Linked DNA regions of Homo sapiens. The protein of the gene in region 1 interacts with the protein of each later gene in a pairwise test. Each region holds a gene or a part of one and is shown in the gene's direction. Other genes may lie near its edges.

Region 1 (6,904 bases):
CTCACAGCAGCCTTAGGAGCGAGGTGTTATTTTTATCTCCATTTCACAGATAAGGAATCCGAGCTTTCTCCCCACAGTGAAGATGGATAGGGAATTACTAAACAACTGAAGACAGGCAGGAAGGAGGAGCAAAGACGAACAAGGACTTCCAGAGATACCCCCTTTCTCTCTCCACCCCTTCTTTTCCCCAAGTATCTTCCTTTCCTTCTCTAGAAGAAATAAAGTTGGAAGAGAAAGAAGCAAAAATGAAGTAAAGACAAATAGAAGGACCTAAATTTACATCCTCAGTTATGTGGTAATACCCACCCCACTACACCACACCCCCACCTACCAAGGTACCAGTGGCAGGGGATGGAATTGCTAAAGGGATGAAAGGAGGGGCCCCAGCTCGCTTACACAGCAGTAACCTTCCTGGGGCCACCAAAGACCAGAGTCCAGATCCCCAGTGAGGTGCACCTCACTGGGTGGTGCAGTAGAGTCCCCTGGCTCAACCTCCGACCCTGGAGAAGTTGGCATGCACCACTCCCAAAGCCCCACTGGGCCTCTCCCAGGGTGACTGCTCTTCCAGGCTGCCCTGGCCCTCACTGCATCCTCCCTCTGGCTCCAGAATGGGGAAAGGTCCGGAGTCTTGCTGAATGGCAACTATAGCACTGCAGCCATTCGAGTGTGACTTGGGGCATCCCAACCCCATGCCTGGACTCCTCATTACCCACTCCTCCAGTCTGTCTTGCTCCAGACCCCAGATCACCCTGGGTAGCGGGTCCCCGAAACGAGAGTCCTTTAGAATGCTGCCATCACCTGTCCCTAGGCAGTTGCATCCTCCAGCACAAAGATCCAAACTCCTGCTGCAAAGTTCTGCTCATACCCTTTAAGAAAACTCTCAACCTTTCCTCCACCTCACTGGTTCTCCCTGTGCCTCCCCAACACCTGATAGATGTCCAGTTACTGCAGAACATAACAAGTACTGGGATGGATGGTCCAAACCCAAGTCATGAATGGCATTTGTTAGTATAGTAGACATTTCCGCAGGACACAGAATCATCCCAGTGGTCCTCATACCCATTGGCCAAGTCCCATTTTCCTCCCCTCCTCCAGCAGAGGGTCCCTACACTCCAGCAGGCAGGCTAAGCTGGCCTGGCTCCTCCCCCGAAGCTCCAGGTAACCCCATCACAATGCCCATCCCCTCTCCAGCTGCCCCAAGGGGGTGCTCAACTTACCGTCTAGGAGCTCTTAGAGGCTGCTGGCTGGTCCAGTTCCTTCTCCGAGAAACAAGGGTCAGCCAGATTCAGTCGGCAGGCCAGCAGACAAGTGGAGGTGGGCGGGGAATCCAGGCAGGAGTGGCCTGGCATTTCCTGGCAGAGCCCTGCCTCCCAGCTGTCTAAAGAGGGGTGAGGGAGAGTGTCCCTGTCTATTGGCAAAGTCCAGCCCAGGTAAGGGATTAGCTGAGGATCCCAGAAGTCAGTGAACTTTCCAGTCTAGGTCTGGAAGGAAGGAGGGAGGCAGGGAGACAACCTGGGTGTAGGTGCTGCACCTTGAAACCCCTCCTTACAGTGCCCTCTGCTGGTGAGTGGCTGTCCCCAGCCAGAGGCTATTATTAAAATAGCAGATAGGAGGAGGAGGGAACCTTCATCTGAGTTTCTTAAACTATAATGTGCACAACAGTCACCTGGGAGATCTTGTTAAAATGCAGGCTCTGATTCTGTAGGTCTAGTATGGGGCCTGAGATTCTGCAGCTCAAAGAAGCTCCCAGCTGATGCCAATGCAACCGGTCCAAGGAGCTTAGAGAGCATCTAGTTCCACCCGCTCCCCACACAGAGAAGACAGTGGAGCCACTGAGACGGTTAATGACTCACCAGTTGCTGGTGGACCTGAGATGTACCCATATTTTTCCTTACACAAGGTGCTTTCTACTTCCCCCACCCAAAGTTGGCAGAGACACTGCCGGTTGGGAGACAACTGAACTTTGGGGCCATTTGCCATTCTGAGTTCTTAAAACTCTGCCTAGGAGCGGTGGCACCACAAGAATGAAAACTCCTTGTGGAACTTTTCCCATGTTTTCGGCTGTCTCCTCAGCTCCTGGTACAGCCTGATAGATAGAAGGTGTTCAATAAACATGTCTTGAATGAATGAGTGAAGCAGTTGAGAGGGAAAAGGATGCATTTTGGCTCCAACTGGCCAACACTGAGCCCAGGTGAGCCACACGTTGGGTATGTAATATTGGGCAAGCTACTTAACTCCTCTGAACCTCAATTCCCTTGTCTGTCAAATGCAGTTAAGAATATCTACCTTGTGTGAGATAATAATTGTCATTATTGAGCTAATAAATGTCAAATGCCCACCACAGAATGGGTGGTCAATAGATGGTAACCGTTGTCACCAGGGTCTGGCCTCCTGCAGTTGAGGAGGCATGGTGAACGCCCCCCCAGGCCCCTAGTTATCATCTCCCATAGAAAATAAGTAACTTCCTCTGCTTTTGTCTCAGTTAATAATTCTCTAGCCTCTTGTCTCTGACTGCAATGCCCTCCCCTCTGCTTCCTTCCCTGGTGGAGGTGAGAGGGTGGAATAAACCTCCCAGGGGAGCCCAGTACCCCAAAGTGCAGAGATGGTAGAGAGCGGGCAACCTGGGAAGCAGACCTCATGCCTAAAGACAAGCCAGGAAGGGGTGCTCAGAACTTTGATAGGGAATGAAAGGAGTGGGGTAGGGGTGTTTGTCTTTGTTGAACAAAGCTCTGTCTGAGTCACACAGGAGGCTGGACTTTGCCAACAGACAGGGACACTCTCCCCTACCCCTCTTTAGGGCGGCTGGGAGGCAGGACTTTCTGCCAGGAAGCGCCAGGTCACTCCTCCTTGACTCCCCACCCACCTCCACTTGTCAGCTGCCTTCTCCTCTGAGTCATAAAGTCCTAGGGGTTTGTGAAAGATCTGTCAAGCTAGGGTTCTAAGCCAGGAAGGTCATGCCAACCAGGAGGCTATAACCAGGGGCTGTGTTCATGGATTATGAACTCACTTCCCAAGCTAGTTCTTGCCACTCTTGGGGACAATCCCAATTATAAGGAGGCTCTGAAGAAATGTGAAGGCTCCTACCACTCACTCCCATGGCCACAGAGCTGGTTCATGGGATGCAAAGACCACAGGCATCAACAGCATTATAACTGGGGGCTGAGCTGTCACAGGAGGGCCAGTGTCAAACCCTCACCACAAGCCCTCAAACATTCCATCAAGGGGTAGCCTCCAGAGGCCAGGCACCAAGGAGGGTCTGGCAGACCAGAGGGGCTCCTCCTGAGAGGAACTCTTTGGGGCCATGAAACAGCAACTTGGACTTCCCAGCCAGTGTCACCACCCTTCTCATCTGAGAAAGGCAGATCAGCAGGGAGCACCACTCCACCCTCCTCCCAGCCCCACCCTCCTCCCAGCCCCACCCTCCTCTGCCTTCCACACATCATATGTCATCAGGCCCCCCGCCTGGGAGGTGTGCTGCCAGAGGTAAGGGGAGCACAGGCCTAGGAACCAGGAGGCACTGGGAGAGGCAGGTGTCAGGAGAAAAGAGGATGGGGGCAGGGAGGGGCAGGGAGGGGGCCTCCACCACTGGACAGAAATGTAGAAAAACAGGAAGGCAGAAGATGAGCAAACGGACAGTCAGGAGCACAGAAAGACAAGTAGAAATATGCACAGGTGGGCATGCTGCTCAGCTCTGTCCCAGAACCTCCAGGACCAGTGTCCCTGACCCTTGACAGAAAAGGATGGATTAGGGCCAGGCACAGTGGCTCATGCCTGTAATCCCAGCACTTTGGGAGGCCAAGGCGGGTGGATCACCTGAGGTCAGGAGTTCGAGACCAGCCTGACCAACATGGCAAAACCCCATCTCTACTAAAAATACAAAATTAGCCGGGCATGGTGGCGCACGCCTGTAATCCCAGCTACTAGGGAGGCTGAGACAGGAGAATCACTTGAACTAGGGAGGCAGAGGTTGCAGTGAGCCGAGATTGCACCACTGCACTCCAGCCTGGACAACAAGAGTGAAACTCTGTATGAAAAGAAAAAAAAAAAAAGGATGGATTAGATAGTCAGTCCAGAATACTGAAAATAATCAGATTGTTTTCTCTCCTTCAAATCTGGTTAATCATGGGGGGAGGCTGAAATATCATGAACAAATGAGAAGAATGATATTTGTGGGGCCTTGGTGGGGCCTTGGCTGGAGGAGGGTCTGTACATTGTCCCACATGCAAATGACATGCAAAGCAACATGCCACCTTGGCAGCTTTTTAATCAAAGACCAGGCAGTTGTTTCCTTGAAAAGTCAGGCCACAAGAAACCTGGATGCTTGTGCTTACATCCTGACACTCTGGGAATGGAAAGATGGAGCAGGAAGCTCATACCCCATGGCTCCAGGGGTAGAAGAGAGCTAAAAGTTCAGAAAAAGGAATCCACGGTGTCAACAGGCCAAGTTTGAATTTGGGCAGGAGATCAGCCTGGGTGGGCCCCATGAGTGTGCCAGTCTGATATGGTGAGATAAGCCTGGGACAGATGTGCTGCCGCATTCGTGACTAGAAAAGAGTCCCCAGGAATTTCTGGCTCCTGCCTTCAGATTGTGAACTTTCCAGGTTGGTAGATCAGCTTAGGTAGAACAGTTCTCGGTGAGGGCCAGCTACATACCTGGCTAAGCGCTGCCCACTGCAGAAAAGCTCATCACCCGGGACCTGATCTCCAGGACTCAGAAGCACTTGGAGGAAGGCCTATTCACTTAGAAGCAGTTACCAGTGCTGGGCAGTGTCCTCCAAGTGCCAGAGGAGTGCTGTGGAGAAAAGAAGTCCATGGAAGCCAGGAGATGGGCAAGGTGTGGCCTGGGGTTGGAGAGAGCTCAGAGGTACAGGACTGGAGCTGGGCCAGGGAGAGAGGAAGGACCTCCGTGAGTAGACCTTCTCTGAGGGGCTCAGGCCAGGAAATGAGTCAGGTTAGGAGGCAGAGACAGACGAGGAGCCGCAGGGGAAGGCTCATCACTAGCATGTTCTCTGCCTCCCCAGATTTTGCCTCTTCAAGGTGAATGCGGCTTCAAGGGGCTATCTTTGTGCTCCTGCCCCACCTGGGGCCCATCCTGGTCTGGCTGTTCACTCGTGATCACATGTCTGGTTGGTGTGAGGGCCCGAGGATGCTGTCCTGGTGCCCATTCTACAAAGTCTTATTGCTTGTACAGACAGCCATCTACTCTGTCGTGGGGTGAGTACTTGTTTCTCACACATGGCCCTGGTACCCAATGGGGTGGGAACAAGTCCTCTATATCTGAATTACTCCCATATATTGGCCTCCAAAGGTAGGCGCTTTGTCTTGCCTCTCACCACCATAGTGGGTCCTCCAGAAAGTAAGAAACCCTCTATGCCTGCCTGGGGTTCCAGTTAGCCCTTCTTCCACCCTCTCTAAGTCTCCCCAGCCCCTCCTCCACCTCACCATGCCCAGCTCCTCCCACCAACTCCCTCCCTGGCCCTTACATGATGCCTAAACCCATCTGCCCCCATTTCAGCCCACAAGGGTATCCAAGAGTCCTTATGCCAGAGAGCCTCCTCCATTTGCCACGGAACCTCCTCCCACTGAATGTTTTTGCCACCATGTCTCCACAGCTATGCCTCCTACCTGGTGTGGAAGGACCTGGGAGGGGGCTTGGGGTGGCCCCTGGCCCTGCCTCTTGGCCTCTATGCTGTTCAGCTCACCATCAGCTGGACTGTCCTGGTTCTCTTTTTCACAGTCCACAACCCTGGTCTGGTAAGGCACACAGTGCTCAGTAGCAGAAGTAATGTGGGAGAGGGTGAAACCACCTGGCTCCAGAAGCACATAATTCAGCAGAGCAATTGAGTGCAGGCAGGTAATGGGTGGGCAGACTTCTCTGCACTCCCATGGTGTGCACAGAGCCCCAGGGACTGAGCTCGTTGCTGGGCTGGGTACTGCAGAAAGGTGGAGGTGCTGGTTCTCGGGCAGCCAGCTGACCCCCGGCCTCTATGCCCAGGCCCTGCTGCACCTGCTGCTGCTGTATGGGCTGGTGGTGAGCACAGCACTGATCTGGCATCCCATCAACAAACTGGCTGCCCTGTTACTGCTGCCCTACCTAGCCTGGCTCACCGTGACTTCAGCCCTCACCTACCACCTGTGGAGGGACAGCCTTTGTCCAGTGCACCAGCCTCAGCCCACGGAGAAGAGTGACTGAGGCCCTAGGGCATGGGAGAGGAGGGACGCCCAGGGTGGGGAGGAAGAGTCTGCAAGCAGGGCTGTGGAGTTAGGGTTCACCCCAATGGGACCACCCTCCTGGGTCCCCTGGTGCCGTTTTTCCTTAGAAATCAGAGAAATGGGAAAGGGGGGGAAACTGATTTTACACTTAAATAATAAAATCCTATTAGTAACTCTGAAGGTATGATGTGAAGTGTGTATTTGAATGCATAATATGATGACTAGGGCGGCAGAGTGGGATAGAAGCTTCTGGACCTCTGTGTGAGTGTGTGCGCGTGAATGAATGTGTGAAGGCCCATGGGGGAGGGGTGGGCACACCAGCTCGCCTCCATTCACATGCCTCCCCACCTGGCATAAAGATTTAGCACTCAGATGTTTAATTACCTGAAAAACAAAAGGCTTTTTAAAAGTGACAAAAAAGCCAAAACAGAAAAATACACCTTAAAAAAGGGTACTAGGGGGCCAGGAGTGGTGGCTCACACCTGTAATCCCAGCACTTTGGGAGGCCAAGGCGGGTGGATCATGAGGTCAGGAGTTCGAGACCAGCCTGGCCAACATGGTGAAACCCTGCCTCCAAAAATACAAACATTAGCTGGGTGCAGTGGTGAGTACCTGTAGTCCTAGCTACTCAGGAAGCTGAGGCAGGAGAATCACTTGAACCCGGGGAAGAGGAGGTTGCAGTGAGCCGAGA
Region 2 (7,142 bases), on another chromosome or scaffold:
TGTGTGCCCTTGTAACCAGGAAGATCTTAACACTTCCATGAACACGCTCGACCTACATTTCTATTCCATTGTCTAAGTCATTCGGCTCTTCCAGGAAAAAGAGAGGAAATCTATTCTTCCCCAGTAAAGCCTTTTACGTGCAGTAAAAAATGCATACAACAAACCCGCCACCCCAGCCAGCCCCAGCTCTATCAAACCACCACGGGGCTTCTATCTCCTTCTGCGGCACAGCTGTGGGTTCTGCTGGTCAGGTGTGCCCTATGCCTACGAGGAGCTCTCGGCCTCCCCGCAGGTGAGGACACCTCCTGGACCCACTCTTGTAGCTCCATTCCTGCCTCTCCTCCACCGCAGGGGTCAGGCCACCATCGTCAGGTGACCTCGGCCCCATGCTCACAGCCATTGCCCTTGGTCTCTGACCCCTTCCTCCTAAAAAGTACATCTAACCTGCCTATGTCCCTTGGTGCCACCCCACCGCACCCCCTACAACATGGAACTCAGCCCCCTGGCATGCAGACAGGCCCTTCAGCAGCATCTGCACACAGGGCAGTTACCACAGAGGTCAGCTGCACCCCACCTCCTGCCCCTGTCATCCCAGATAGGTCCTGCAGCTCCAGCCTCTACATGCTGGAGTGTTTCTAGAGAAACACTTTCTGCCGCCAACACCCCCACACCCTCCTCTCTGCCTCTGCAAAGTCTTCCTGTGATGCTCCTAGGCCAAGCAAGTGGCTCTTCTGTCACCCAGAGTTCTAGAATGTCCTGTGTCCAGGGCAATCTCTGGCACACAGCAGATGCTTAAAAGATACTGGTTGAATGAGTCCTGACCATACCATTAACCCAGCACTCACCAAACTGCCCTAAAAATGCCTGTTTGCAGCCGGGCGCGGTGGCTCACGCCTGTAATCCCAGCACTGTGGGATGCCAAGGCGGGCGGATCACCTGAGGTCAGGAGTTCGAGACCAGCCTGACCAACATAGAGAAACCCCATCTCTACTAAAAATACAAAATTAGCCGGGCGTGGTGGCACATGCCTGTAATCCCAGCTACTCGGGAGGCTGAGGCAGGAGAATCACTTGAACCCGGGAGGCGGGAGGTTGCGGTGAGCTGAGATCACACCATTGCACTCCAGCCTGGGCAACAAGAGCGAAACTCCGTCTCAAAAAAAAAAAAAGGCATGTTTGCTGTCTGTCTCCACGACCAGACCACACCAGGTGCACGGTTCCCTCATCCTCGCCTCTCAGCACCACAAGCCCCGGCATGCGGCGCGCGGCCACAGTGAGTGCTCAACGCCAGGCCCATGGCAGCCCTGGGAGCAGCCGCCCAAAGCCTCCTCAGGCGGCAGCGTGTCCTGCTGAGTTACTTAAACCTGGAAACCACTTGACGTCAGCTGTTCGTAATTTTTAAAAAGTATTAAAGTGCTTTTACCACATCAAAACACAACTACCATATTTTTCAGAAGAAAACACACGTCAGCACATTTCTCTGACATCATGATGAACAGCATCATTTTTCTTTTATGCATTCAGAAAAATACGTGCAAAAATGACAAAAACCTGAAATCAACCTCATGGCTCCAAATCCCAACGTCAAACCAGAGTTTAGCGACGGACGCCAACCCCTGAGAGTCACAAAGCCTTCCCTCACTTTTTTTTCTTAACCAACCAAACAAGCAGCAGTGACCCCTTTGCCTTCGAGGGCCACTCAGCTGACCAAGGGCAGCCCAGACGCTGCTGGCCCCCACCCAGCCCCCAGGCCGAACAAGCACCCAGAGCACACGCAATGCCCTGACATACCCAGCACACCAGGACTGGGATCCAGTTCCTCAACCCGCAAAGCTCCGTAGGGGAAAAGTGCCTCACAACGCAACAAGAAGCTCCTCCCAAGGGTCTCAACACTGAGCTGTGAGTCCCTGGGGGACACTCGGGAACTCCAATGGGGAAGAATACAGTGCGTTAGGAAGCCAGTGGGTGGGGAAGTCTATGCCCCACGGACACAAGGGCGGGACACAGGAGGTGGGTGGACGGCACCAGCCCCGTAGGGCATCTGTGAGCTCTGCCACGGGCTCCCAGTGTTTTGGAGCCTGAGAAGGAGACTGACCTGTGTGGCAAGAAACTATAAGCAGCTTATATAAAAATGTGGACTGGAAAGCCACAGCAGCCTCCCCAAAGGAAGCCCGACAGGAAGCGGGGCAGGAGGAGCAGGTCCTTAGGGAAAAAGGCAAGAGGAAGAGGGAGGACTGGGAGGGGAGCCTGCACAGGTGGCTCCGCAGCCCCCCTGGGCCACCACACAGCCACGCTGACCTCTGGCATCATGGCCTCCAGCAGGCTGCCCACCCCTGGCTCCCCAGCGCTCAGGTCATGCCTGAACTGGCCCTCAGGAAGTGGGGGGTTCCTGGTGACCACAGGTGCCCACCCACCCCAGGGCTTCTCCAGGACAGGTGGGGGGAGCCAGGATGGACGAAGGCAGGGCAGGGGCAGAGCTGCACAGGGGGGACCAGTAGGAGGCGGGGCTGCCACAAAGAAAAGGGGGGCAGGGGGCAGGTGTGTGCAGGGCAGGGCCAGGTCAGGTGAGGCTAGGCAGGTCACCAGGGGCAGGTGTGCGGGGCAGGTGTTTGGGGTAGGTGGGGCAGGCTGGTCACCTGGGGCAGGTATGTGGGGCAGGTGTGCGGGGCAGGTAGGGCAGGCCGATCACGTGGGGCAGGTGGGGAAGGCTGGAAACGTCGAGCAGGTGTGCGAGGCAGGTATTTGTGGCAGGTGGGGCAGGCTGGTCACCTGGAGCAGGTACGTGGGGAAAGTGTGAGGGGCGGGTGGGGCAGGTGTGAGAGGCAGATGTGAGGGGTGAGCTAGTCACGTGGGGCAGGTGTGCAGGGCGGGTGGGGCGGGCGGGTCACGTGGAGCAGGTGTGAGGGGCAGGTGTGCAGGGCGGGTGGAGCGGGCTGGTCACGTGGAGCAGGTGTGAGGGACAGGTGTGGCGGGCTGGTCACCTGGGACAGTTGTGCGGGGCAGGCGCGCGGGGTAGGCGCGCGGGAACCGGACGAGGCGAGAGGCCGGCGGGCGCACTTGCCTGCGAAGGCTGCGGCAGCGGCGGCCTCGTCGGGGCCGGGCAGGGCCTCGGCGCCCATGTCCATGTGCCCGGGCTCCGCCGCCATCACCGCCACTGCCGTGACCCGCGGCGTCTCCCGCTCCGCCTCCGAGTCTGCGTCCTCCTCCGAGTCCTCGTCCCTGCTCAGCACCGGCTCCTCCGCCTCGCCTCCTGCCGCGGCCGCGGCCGCCGCCGCCACAGCGGCCGCGGCCGCCACCGCCGCCGCCTCAGCCAGGCCCAGCTGCTTTGCCGCCGAGTCCGAGTCCTCCATCCGGACTCCGCCGAGCCTTCCCGAAGGCGCCGTCCGGGACCGCCCGAAGCGCCGGTCGCGGAGCCCGAAGCGGGGCCCGAAGAGGACGCCCGAGCTGGGCCGAGGCCGCCCGAAGCCGCCGCCCGAATAGGGACCGAAAAGGCAGCCAGCCGCCGAGCAGAGCCGAGCCGAGTCCGCCCGCGGAGCGGAGCCGAGGCGAACAGAGGCTGCCCGAGTAGGAGCCGAACCTGCACGAAGCCGCCGAGCCGAGACCGAGTCCTGAACCGAGGAGGGTCGAAGTTCCCCGAAGTGGGAAGCCGAATCAGTCCGAATAGGTCCGAGTCCTCACGAGGGCTTCCGAGAGACTCGGCCCCTGCTCTCCTCACTGTCCTGACAGGCTGAGGCGGCTGTCGTCCCCGGCCGACAGGGCTGGACGGCTCTAGGCAGATTCTCGCCGGCGGCCGGCGCAATTCTGCCTCTCAGAGAGAGCTTAGTGCCGCGGGTTTCGCCCGTTCCCGCCGCCGGCGGAAGCCGAGTCAGCCCGAGGCCGAGCCGAGACGAGCCGAATGTCCCCGAGGCCGAATGCTCCCGAACGTCGGTTCTCCACCTCTTCCCTTCCGAAAGTGCCCGAGCGGTGCCGGACGGACTAATCGGGCCTCGGCCGTGGCTCGGACGTCCGCTCCCGAAACGCGGCGCGGTCGGGCCCCTTCGTCAGGAGACGCGAAAATGGCCGAAGGAGCGCGAGCGCGCGGGCCGAGAGGCTGCCGGGATCGCGACGGACCGGCGGGCGGGGCGGGTAAGATGGCGGCCCCGCGGCGAGGTGAGCTCGGGCGGGGTGGGGGCTTCCGGGCTTGCAGCGGCGGGCGCGGCGTTTCCCTGTGGTGACAATCCGGTTTCCGCTTTCGGTGCGCTCACGGGGCCGTGCCACCGTCTCTACGTGAGCGAGACAGCTCCGTCACCCCATCGAGAAGCGCGGCCTGGCCTGGCCTGGGTGGCGGGCGTCCTGCACCCCGAAGAGCTCCCCCGCGCGCGGGCGCCTGGCCCCGGGCAGGGTGGGTGCGGAGCGGCTCTGGGGGCCCCAGTCCCCGGCAGCTCTTGTCCCGCGCGTGGTTTTTGTGAAGACACGTGGGCGGGATGGGCGCAGGGTTTCGGTAGCCTTGGAACTCTCGCCAAAGAAAATCGCGGGCGCCGGTGCCTCAGCCGTCCTGCCTGAGAGACTCGCCTCCGAGAGGAGGAAGGGACAGACCAAAGCAGTAAATCGGCCATCCTGCAGAGGAGCCGCCTTCTGCTGTCTGTGGGTACAGCCAGAACTCCCATACGCGGGCGCTGAAGTGCCAAACCTTCGTGCGTGTTCTCTAGTAATTAGGTGCATTGTTTTGAAGGAATAAAGAATGGCTACTCCATAGGCAGGACAGCCTCTAGTAACCAGGTTTGTTTTGTGTATTTTCATTTGGTTAAAAATTAAGTTTAGGTTGGGCGCAGTGGCTCAGGCCTGTAAGCCTGACAGTTTGGGAAGCCGAGGCTGCAGGATCATTTGAGGCCAGCCTGGGCAACATAGCAAGACCCCCTCTATAAAAAAAAAACTGTAAACATCAGCCAGGCGGTGGCGCACCCCTGTGGGCCAAGCTATTCTGGAGGCTGAGGCTGGCGGATCACTTGAGCCCAGGAGGTCGAGGTTGCAGTGAGCCGTGATGGCGCCACTGCACTCCAGCCTGGGCGACAGAGCGAGACCCCCTTCTACAAAAAAAAAATTAAAAATTACCCCGGGGAAGGCCAGGCGCAGTAGCTCACGCCTGTAATCCCAGCACTTTGGGAGGCCAAAGCGGGCGGATCACCTGAGGTCGAGGGTTCAAGACCAGCCTGACCAACATGGAGAAACCCCGTCTCTACTAAAAATACAAAATTAGCCTGGCGTGATGGTGCATGCCTGTAATCCCAGCTACTTGAGAGTCTGAGGCAGGAGAATTGCTCGAACCCGGTGGTGGTGGTGGGGGGGGTGGGGTGCGGAGGTTGCAGTTGGCCAAGATCGCACCATTGCACTGCAGCCTGGGCAACAAGAGCGAAATTCTGTCTCAAAAAAAAAAAAAATTACCTCAGGGAGCCTGTGGTCCCAGCTACGTGGGAGGCTGAGGCTGGCGGATCACTGGAGCCCAGGAGGTTGAGACTGCAGTGAGCTGTGATCAGGCCACTGCACTCCAGCCTGGGCAACAGAGCAAAACCCTGTCTCTAAAAAAACTAAGTGTATACCAAAACAAGATTTCTTAACACATCTTGTCCATTACATCAGGGAAAACACTTGTTCTCTTTCACTTCCATGTTTAACTTCTGCCTGACACAGCTATTCGTAGCCACATTGTGATTATAGTAAGTCACTGACAAAAAATGTTGTCCTGAAAGCCAAGGCTACGTTCGGTCAGAATGAGCTCCTGCAGGTCTGGAATTGTTAGAACAGCGTATCTGGTTATAGCCGCCCTTCATATTAATTATTAAAATGTTACATCACTTAAGGCTTTTATACAGTTTTTCCCCCAAGCCCCATAACTTCAATCTATAACAGTGAGCAACTAGCAGACACATTGGAAGTGTTTAAGAAGCCAGCCTTTAAGAAAAGGAACAGAAGGGACAAAAACCCCAATTAATGCGAAATCATCACAGATAATGACAGGTATTTAGGTGGCCTGGTTTAGCTAAGGCCTGGAAAAGAACAGATCGGGTTTAAAGAGTGGCCTGCCGGGAACGCGATGCGGCGTGGTCTGCCGTGCACTTGGCTTCCTGCTTCCATCCTGTGGTGCCTCTTCCAGGAGCCCAGTTCTGAGTCTCTGATGCCGATGTCCTGTATTTACTGGCTTAAAACTCTTGCCTGTGTGAGATTCCACAAACTCTGGCACAGAAGGCCCCAGATCTGCCCAAGAAGCTGTGGGATCAGCCACAAAATCTCACCAACGCCAGGTTTCTGTCCTGCCCTCCCTGGCGCTGAAGGGGAAATAGAACAGAGGCTGTGTTCAGGTTGCTGTCCTGCCTGCCGCCCAGCGGTGCAGCTTGAGCCTCCTTTTATGAGAGGTTTCCACCCAATTCTAGATGTGTATTGAGGTATCTACACATGGAGGGACGTGCACATATCACACGTGCAACTGGCCTGAGCCCTTTTCAGACAATTAGTCCGCTCCAGGTCAGCGTGGATCCAGGGTGAGTCAGAGGCGTCTTCAGATGCAAAACCTCAGAATCAAAAAGGAGGAAAGAGACTCCACTCACTCCTCGGGCTTCCTGTCATCTCTCAGGTGGGGGTGGGAGAAGGCCCAAGAGGTTGCATGATAAAAAGACTGGACAGCTGCATTGCTGGTTTGGAAAATCCTTATTTTTGGAGGGATATTTGGGGATAAAATTTCAGAGGAAAGCAAATGTCTCATCAATCATGAAAAAAGATTTGTTACAACCTAAGTCAGAAAAGGTTTTCATCTAGTCATATATGTGTGGCAAATACGGAGAAGCCACAGACGGTGAGCCACAGACAATGAGAGCAGCTGTTGGGGTGGGCTCCAGGGTGCTGCTTTCCCTGAGGGCCAGCTGGGTCTGGCCCAGGTTCACTTCCCACCCCGGTGCCCCCGGTACTCGCTGTCTCCAGCCTCAGGTTCTGAAAGGCAGAGACTCCTAGCCTCATTGAAGGATGGTTAGAGAGGCACGGGAGCTATCTAGTGGCAGGCCCACGGTATATGTTTGCTGCTTTCTACAAATACGAGATCAAAGGAAAATAAAGCAGGGGTGGTTCCTGTCAGTGTGGAGCGAGACCCGGGAAAGCATCCTGGTGGCTGTCAGG
Region 3 (7,025 bases), on another chromosome or scaffold:
TACAGAGACAGAGGAAAGGATGGAATGACCTCAGCCTAGGATATCTGGTGTCCTATGAGTCAGGACCATCTGACTGGTCATGGAGCCAGCTGTCTCCTGCTGGGAAGGGCACAGGAAAGAGGGACTAGGCATATTGATACTGTGCTTTTTTAGAGCCAGTTTCAATGCTACAGTGGGCCTGGTTAAAAAGTGAAATTGACAGAGTACTCTGGGCTTTATTTTGCCCACTTGTGAAAAGCTCCAGGGCCAATAGAATCAAGACACGGTGTTCTGTTTTGTTTTGTTTTTTAGAGACAGGGTCTCACTCTGTCGCCCACGCTGGAGTGCAGTGTCACAATCGTAGCTCACTGCTGCCTTGACCTCCCGGGCTTAAGCAATCCTCCCACCTCAGCCTCCGGAGTAGCTGGGACTACAGGCATGCACCACCACACCCAGCTAATTTTTTTTATTTTTTGTAGACATGGGGTCTCACTATGTTTCCCAGGCTGGTCTCAAATTCCTGGCTTCAAGTGATCCTCCTGCCTCAACCTCCTGAAATTCTGGGATTATAGGCGTGAGCCACAGTCCCTGACCAAGATTTTTTTTTTTAAGGCAGAGTATAATCTATATCATTTACTGTTAATGCAAGAAAATTTCTAACCCTATCTCCCAGAATTTTCACCAGTCTCTTTTGTTATTTCCTCTCTTAAAGGCAGGGTCTCCCACAACCACCTCTGCCGTAGAATTTCTTCTGTGTTCGATAGTAATCATTTTCTTCCTTCTCAAAGGGCATCCTCTCTCAAAGAGGGCTGGAGCACCTTATGATCACAGGCTGATGTGTAAGAACAGAAGCTAGACCTTAGGAAGACCTCATGGTGGAGGAAATTGGATTCGGGGCAACTCTTTGGACAGGCGTGGGAAAAATCCCTTTCTATAGTCAAGGACGAAGAATCAGGGGAAAGGAAGGGTTAATTTGGAAGATGGGTAGTTATAAATGAGACTCTGGGAATTAGATATGTGGGGAAAAAAAAAACAATATGGTGGAGAACAAGGCTGCTTGGCTTTGTCCATCTTCCCAGGCACTGGAATATACTTGTCCTACTGCTTGCCTCACCCCATCTCCCACCCTCTCCACCAAGGGCTAACCTCTATCAGTGTCTCCTGCTCCCCAGAGCTCCTAATCAGTCTGTATGCAAGGTAGAATAACTCCCTTTCCTTCCCTTCCCCTAAGGAAAACATAGTAAGTTAACTCTCTTCCCCTGGCTACATTCACACACCCAACACTTTCCTCTCCACGGTTTCTGGGCTCTGCTGATAGTCTCAGCTCTGGAGAAGGAGGGGGAGAGGAGGGATGATGCATCATCTTGTATCCCTGTCCCGTGTTTCTGGGAATTGCTCTTGGACACCCCTTGCCAGCACCTTGTCCTACTTCCACCCGTAATCATTCAAGGCCTCTGGCCACTTTCCAGCCCAAAGCCAGGGAACCCTGGAAAGTGGGAGGCCCTGGAGGAGCCAAGCCTTGCTGAAACAAATGGAGGTAGATGTATGAGGCGTCACTCACCTGAATGGGGCCATGTTGACATCTGTCCTCATCTGTCATCAGCCTCCAGGTCCAGCAGCAGTTCAGAAGGATGGGCAGATACAAGACTGTAGATGGTCTGGGTAATGGAAGGGAGAACCACTTCCCCACTTCCAGGTTTCCAGGAACCAGGAGGATAGATGAGTTCACCTCCATGCACACGAGTCCTATTTCAGAACTTGGGAAGTTGGGGACTGTTTTGGAAAATAATTTCAGTCAGGGTGGGTAGATGTCATCCAAGGAAGACGTGAGGCTACTTTTATCTGTTTGTTTAGTTTTAATGAGACAAGTGCTGGTGCTTTTAATTCTCATTCCAGGAAAACGTGACCAGGTTTTTCCTGAGGTGTTCCAACCCTGGGCTCAAGCCACGGAGGGTGGACAGACTGCACGGTCTGGACTTGTAACTAAGTCTCCTCTCTGTAACTTTGGTCCTTGCTAGCCAAAACAAATCCATAAGCCACTGCTTCAGAGTCCCAGAGTTGTAGGAACACCACCTTAGGGGAAAAGAGAAAACATTGTGGTCAGTTTCAGATGAACCTGCGAAGAAATGTTCCTAGAGCTGCTTTGCAGTGCTCAGAAAAGGCTAGTTGGGGTTGGAGAATGTCACTAGGAATGCGGCCTCGATGAGACGTTCAGCAGGAGTGCTAAGAGCTAAATGTTGCTTAAAACCTGCTAAAGGTGGAACCAGAGTGCGGGACGGAGACTATAGCAGGGAGGGCTAAGTTTAGATAGGAGGAAGAGCTTCCTGGCAGTAAAGGGGGCCCAGGCACTCAAACTGGAATAATGGCAAGAAGTCACAGAAGTCACTTTTTTCCAAGTCTAAAGTGTAGTCTCCCAGGGAGAGTCTAAGTGCATTCTTGCCTAGAGATAGGGGGTCTGGAGGAGTTAGTTTGGATTGTCACAGTACCTTAGAGGGAGGAGGAAAGGGTAGGAACTGTAATTGTAGTTTTCAGCTTCTCTGGACAAATTCAGCAAACTGAACACGGGGCTGCCGTCCTGTGGTGGCGATGCTCCTGAAATGAACAAGGAAGATGAGTCTCTATAATTGTACATACCAGAGAAGGAAGCGAGGTGGGGTGGGAGAGCTATACTGCACACATGTGAGTGGGGAGGCCAGAGACCGCCCCTCGTTCCCTCCAGACACCCCGATAACTGGCCCTGCCTTGATCTTCTTTCTGTGGACCATCAAGGGCCATACAGGTCTGTCTTACTGAGGGCAATGGATCAACCATCTACCATGTCCCTTTAAGGACGTGAGCCTTTTTAGAACATGTAAGCTGTGTCCTTAAGGAAAAGAGTGGGGCGGTTGGTGAAGAGAGGCATAGTGGGACTCTGGAAATGGCAGCCTGGCTAAGGAGAGTGAAGAGAAGGGGTTTAAACAGAAACACACCTTAACATTCAAGACTTGGAGCTGCCCTAGCGTCCTCCTCGATGTGAGGACCTTGTAGGCTTTGGGCAGACGGCCCTCTCCTCTCCTGGCGTGCCTCCCTCTCCTCAGGCTTCCTCTGTTTCCCAAGATGATCTAAACTAACAGTCTGGGTGGAGGGGCTAAATAATTTTATCCTCCTCACCTCACCCCAACCCTCCCCTAGGTAAAAGATGAGAAAAATATTCAAGAGGTATTTGACCTGAGTGACTATGAGAAGTGTGAAGAGCTCCGGAAGTCCAAGAGCAGGAGCAAGAAAAATCATAGCAAGTTTACTCTTGCCCACTCCAAACAGCCCGGTAACACGGTATGTTTCTCCTGCCACCTTGGCTGCTGGAACATGGACAGGGTTGGAGGGGGCAGGGGAGAACTCCTTCCCCTCAGTTTCTCTCTCAGCAATCTTGGTTCAGATTCCCTGAATTGCTCTCCTGCTGGCTTTTATCATTTCACCTGAGAATATTGTAGCCATTTCCTTCTTTCCAGGCAGGCCACCCTTTAACCTGTTCAGCCACAAAGATCATCTCTCTATATATCTCTTTATTTTTCTCTGTCTTATACACACACATCCACACATGTGCATATTTACATCCCTTAGAAGAAAATCCCTGTCCTTGTACCCTGATAGGTGGTTGAAGTTCTGAATCTAATTCATCTTGTCTGAGGGAACCCAGGGAAGTTATTCCTGTCACATTCTATTTCTTCAAACATTGAAAGATTTGTATTTTAATACCTATCCTTCATCAGACTTCCTCTAATTATCTCTAATACCATACTAATATTCAGTATCCTTCTTAGCTCCTCCTTGGTCATTTCTAAAACAACCTCCTAGCTATGCATTTTGCAGGAATAGAAGCTGGGTTTCCTTAAGTTATGGATGACTCTGGAAGCAGAATATCTCTCCTTCCTGGAGCTAGGTCTAAGAAAGTGAGATTATAATCTCTTATTTCTTCATTGTCAAGGTGAGGCACCACCTCTAAAACCCTGGCTGAAACAGGAATCTTCCCCTCACAGGCACCCAACCTGATCTTCCTGGCAGTGAGTCCAGAAGAGAAGGAATCGTGGATCAATGCCCTCAACTCTGCCATCACCCGAGCCAAGAACCGTATCTTGGATGAGGTCAGGGGGCTCACTGTGGGGAGAGGGAGGAACGCTGGGGCAGAGGGAACAGCTGTGACCCACTGAAGGGGGAGGATTGTGCAGGCCCCGTTTACTCGCTCCTCCACCAGCTCTACTTCTTTACCACCCTTTTAAAAGCCCTGATCTCTTTCTACCTTCTCTCCAAGTCTCATCTGACACCTCCTCTTCCCCGCTTCATGATGGGGGAGCCAGCCTTGGGTCAGCTTAAAGAGCCCCCTTCGTGTCCAGTAAATCCCCTTGCCCATTCAGAAGCAGTGAATGGAGTGGGCACATGTTCAGGCCTCGGGATGCTGGGTTGGGACAGCGAGTCGCTGAAGAGCACTCATGATTCACAGTACATCTCTTCAGGTCACCGTTGAGGAGGACAGCTATCTTGCCCATCCCACTCGAGACAGGGCAAAAATCCAGCACTCCCGCCGCCCCCCAACAAGGGGACACCTAATGGCTGTGGTATGTAAGACTGTAATAAACATTGCCAAAGGGCCAATTCTGTGTCAGTCCATCTCAGACAGAACTGTATGCCACCAGAGGCATTTGCGGGAGGCCTCCTTGATGCCAAGATCAAAGGCGAGGGAAGTCCTTCCACCCAATGCCTCTGCCAGATCTAAATCAAAAGGTTTTATTCAGCGCCCATTAGGAGTTCAAAAGTCCCAGCTCCCAGTAATGTTACCCTCTTTCGGAGAAAATGAGTTATACCCACAGGAAAATGAAAAATTAGCTACTGTATGGTGGCTGTCTTGATGGGTAACAACATGTAGTACCGCGGGTGTTTGGAGGAGAAAGGATCACAATGAACTCCTGAAACATACAACGTGCTAGTTTCTTTCATGCCTCTGAGCTCTTAAGTCTTCAGAGAGAGAGGCAGGCAGGTATAATGCAGAGAACACAGGCTTTGGAGTTAGAACCTGAGTTGGAACCTCACTGTAATCAGCTACCTGTGTGGTTCCCTGAAGTTGCATGTCTCCAACTGTAAAATGAGGCAGTAATCATGCCTGCCTTGAAGGGCTGCTGTGAGGAATGACTAAAACAACATATTTGGTATTGAATACTCATCATTTTTAGTATTCTGGAAATAAGAGAACAAATTTTATTATAAGGCAAGGGGGCTGAAGTGTGGGACTCAGAGGATGCAGATGGAGGAGGACAGTCGTGCCATGGGGAGCATCCTGTGTGCATCAGATGCAGTTTAATTGCTGAGAGTCCACAATACCAAGGAAGAGGGCGCCCCTCAGGAAGCTTATGGTAGAGTGGAGAATACAGGAAACAAGTAACAAACTAAATCACAGAAGAAGAAACATTCAAGTCACTATCAAAGGAATAAGAAACAGCACATTCAGTAGGAGGGTTCAGTCAAGAGCAGAGGGCTTTGCCAGGCAGGGGGGCTCACACCTGTAATCCCAGTACTTTGGGAGGCTGAGACGGTGTATCACTTGAGGTCAGGAGTTTGAGACCAGCCATGGCCAACATGGTGAAACCCTGCCTCTGCTAAAAATACAAAAAAAAAGAGCTGGGCGTGGTGGTGCACGCATGTAATCCCAGCTACTCGGGAGGCTGAGGCAGGAGAATGGCGTGAACCCGGGAGGCGGAGCTTGCAGTGAGCTCAAATCGTGCCACTGCACTCCAGCCTGGGTGACAGAGCAAGACTCTGTCTCTAAAAAAAAGTACTTCTCATTCAAGGAAGGCTTGTAGAGGAAAATGACCACAGCTTGCATCTTTTAGGCAGTCATTCCGAAAATCCCTCCTGATGACAGGTTCCCCACTCATTCCCCCCTTCCTCCACAGGCTTCCACCTCTACCTCGGATGGGATGCTGACCTTGGACTTGATCCAAGAGGAAGACCCTTCCCCTGAGGAACCAACCTCTTGTGCTGAGAGCTTTCGGGTTGACCTGGACAAGTCTGTGGCCCAGCTGGCAGGGAGCCGGCGGAGAGCGGACTCAGACCGCATCCAGCCCTCCGCAGACCGGGCAAGCAGTCTCTCCCGACCTTGGGAAAAAACAGACAAAGGGGCCACCTACACCCCCCAGGCACCCAAGAAGTTGACGCCCACAGAGAAAGGCCGCTGCGCCTCCCTGGAGGAGATCCTATCTCAGCGGGATGCTGCCTCTGCCCGCACCCTCCAGCTGCGGGCTGAGGAACCCCCAACCCCTGCCCTCCCCAACCCGGGGCAGCTGTCCCGGATCCAGGACCTGGTAGCAAGGAAACTGGAGGAGACTCAGGAGCTTCTGGCAGAGGTTCAGGGACTGGGAGATGGGAAGCGAAAGGCCAAGGACCCCCCTCGGTCTCCGCCGGATTCTGAGTCAGAGCAGCTGCTGCTGGAGACGGAACGGCTGCTGGGAGAGGCATCATCGAATTGGAGCCAGGCAAAGAGGGTGCTGCAGGAGGTCAGGGAGCTGAGAGACCTGTACAGACAGATGGACCTGCAGACCCCGGACTCCCACCTCAGACAGACCACCCCGCACAGTCAGTACCGGAAGAGCCTGATGTGAGGGCAGGGTGGGGTCTGGAACTTGTCGGGTTGGACAGACTCTTATCTCCGTGTTGCTGGATAAAGCTTTTTTATTTACCTCAATCAAAAAAAGAAAACAAAAATGAACTCATTGCTCTTGCTGATGCCTGACCCCACTACAACCCTTATTGCCCCACCTACTTTCCATATGCCCCTCGTATGCCCCTCAGGTTTGAGGAAGTGACCCCGCAGCAGTAGCAGGAAGTTTTTACCCAGCCAGAGAGAGAGAAGGCACGGTAAAGACACAGTCTGACCACTCCACACACCGCCCGCCCCCAAGACGGCACAGGGAGTCCACTGCTGCTCCCAAGGATACAGTGGGCTTCTAAGCTTAGAGCGGGAGGGGGATGAGGATGTTTTCTGTTATGTCCCACCCCAGGCCTTCAGTTTGAGGGTG

The links.
Region 2: the proteins of TSPO2 (region 1) and TMEM80 interact in binary tests that used the Homo sapiens proteins (3 or more experiments, as listed by UniProt).
Region 3: the proteins of TSPO2 (region 1) and PLEKHO1 interact in binary tests that used the Homo sapiens proteins (3 or more experiments, as listed by UniProt).

What each region holds. Positions count from the first base shown.
Region 1 is NC_000006.12:41,037,945-41,044,848, forward strand, and holds TSPO2 (translocator protein 2), read left to right. Parts: upstream 1-4,522; 5' UTR 4,523-4,834; exon of another isoform or gene 4,835-4,864; intron 4,865-5,021; 5' UTR 5,022-5,041; coding exon 5,042-5,214; intron 5,215-5,612; coding exon 5,613-5,754; intron 5,755-5,995; coding exon 5,996-6,193; 3' UTR 6,194-6,393; downstream 6,394-6,904. UniProt on the Homo sapiens protein: Cholesterol-binding protein involved in the redistribution of cholesterol from lipid droplets to the endoplasmic reticulum. Required to meet cholesterol demands during erythropoietic differentiation.
Region 2 is NC_000011.10:691,699-698,840, forward strand, and holds the start of TMEM80 (transmembrane protein 80), read left to right. Parts: upstream 1-4,124; 5' UTR 4,125-4,129; coding exon 4,130-4,148; intron 4,149-7,142. Other genes in the region: DEAF1 (deformed epidermal autoregulatory factor 1 homolog), read right to left, coding at 3,061-3,349.
Region 3 is NC_000001.11:150,152,916-150,159,940, forward strand, and holds part of PLEKHO1 (pleckstrin homology domain-containing family O member 1), read left to right. Parts: intron 1-3,150; coding exon 3,151-3,291; intron 3,292-3,995; coding exon 3,996-4,100; intron 4,101-4,469; coding exon 4,470-4,571; intron 4,572-5,903; coding exon 5,904-6,608; 3' UTR 6,609-7,025. UniProt on the Homo sapiens protein: Plays a role in the regulation of the actin cytoskeleton through its interactions with actin capping protein (CP).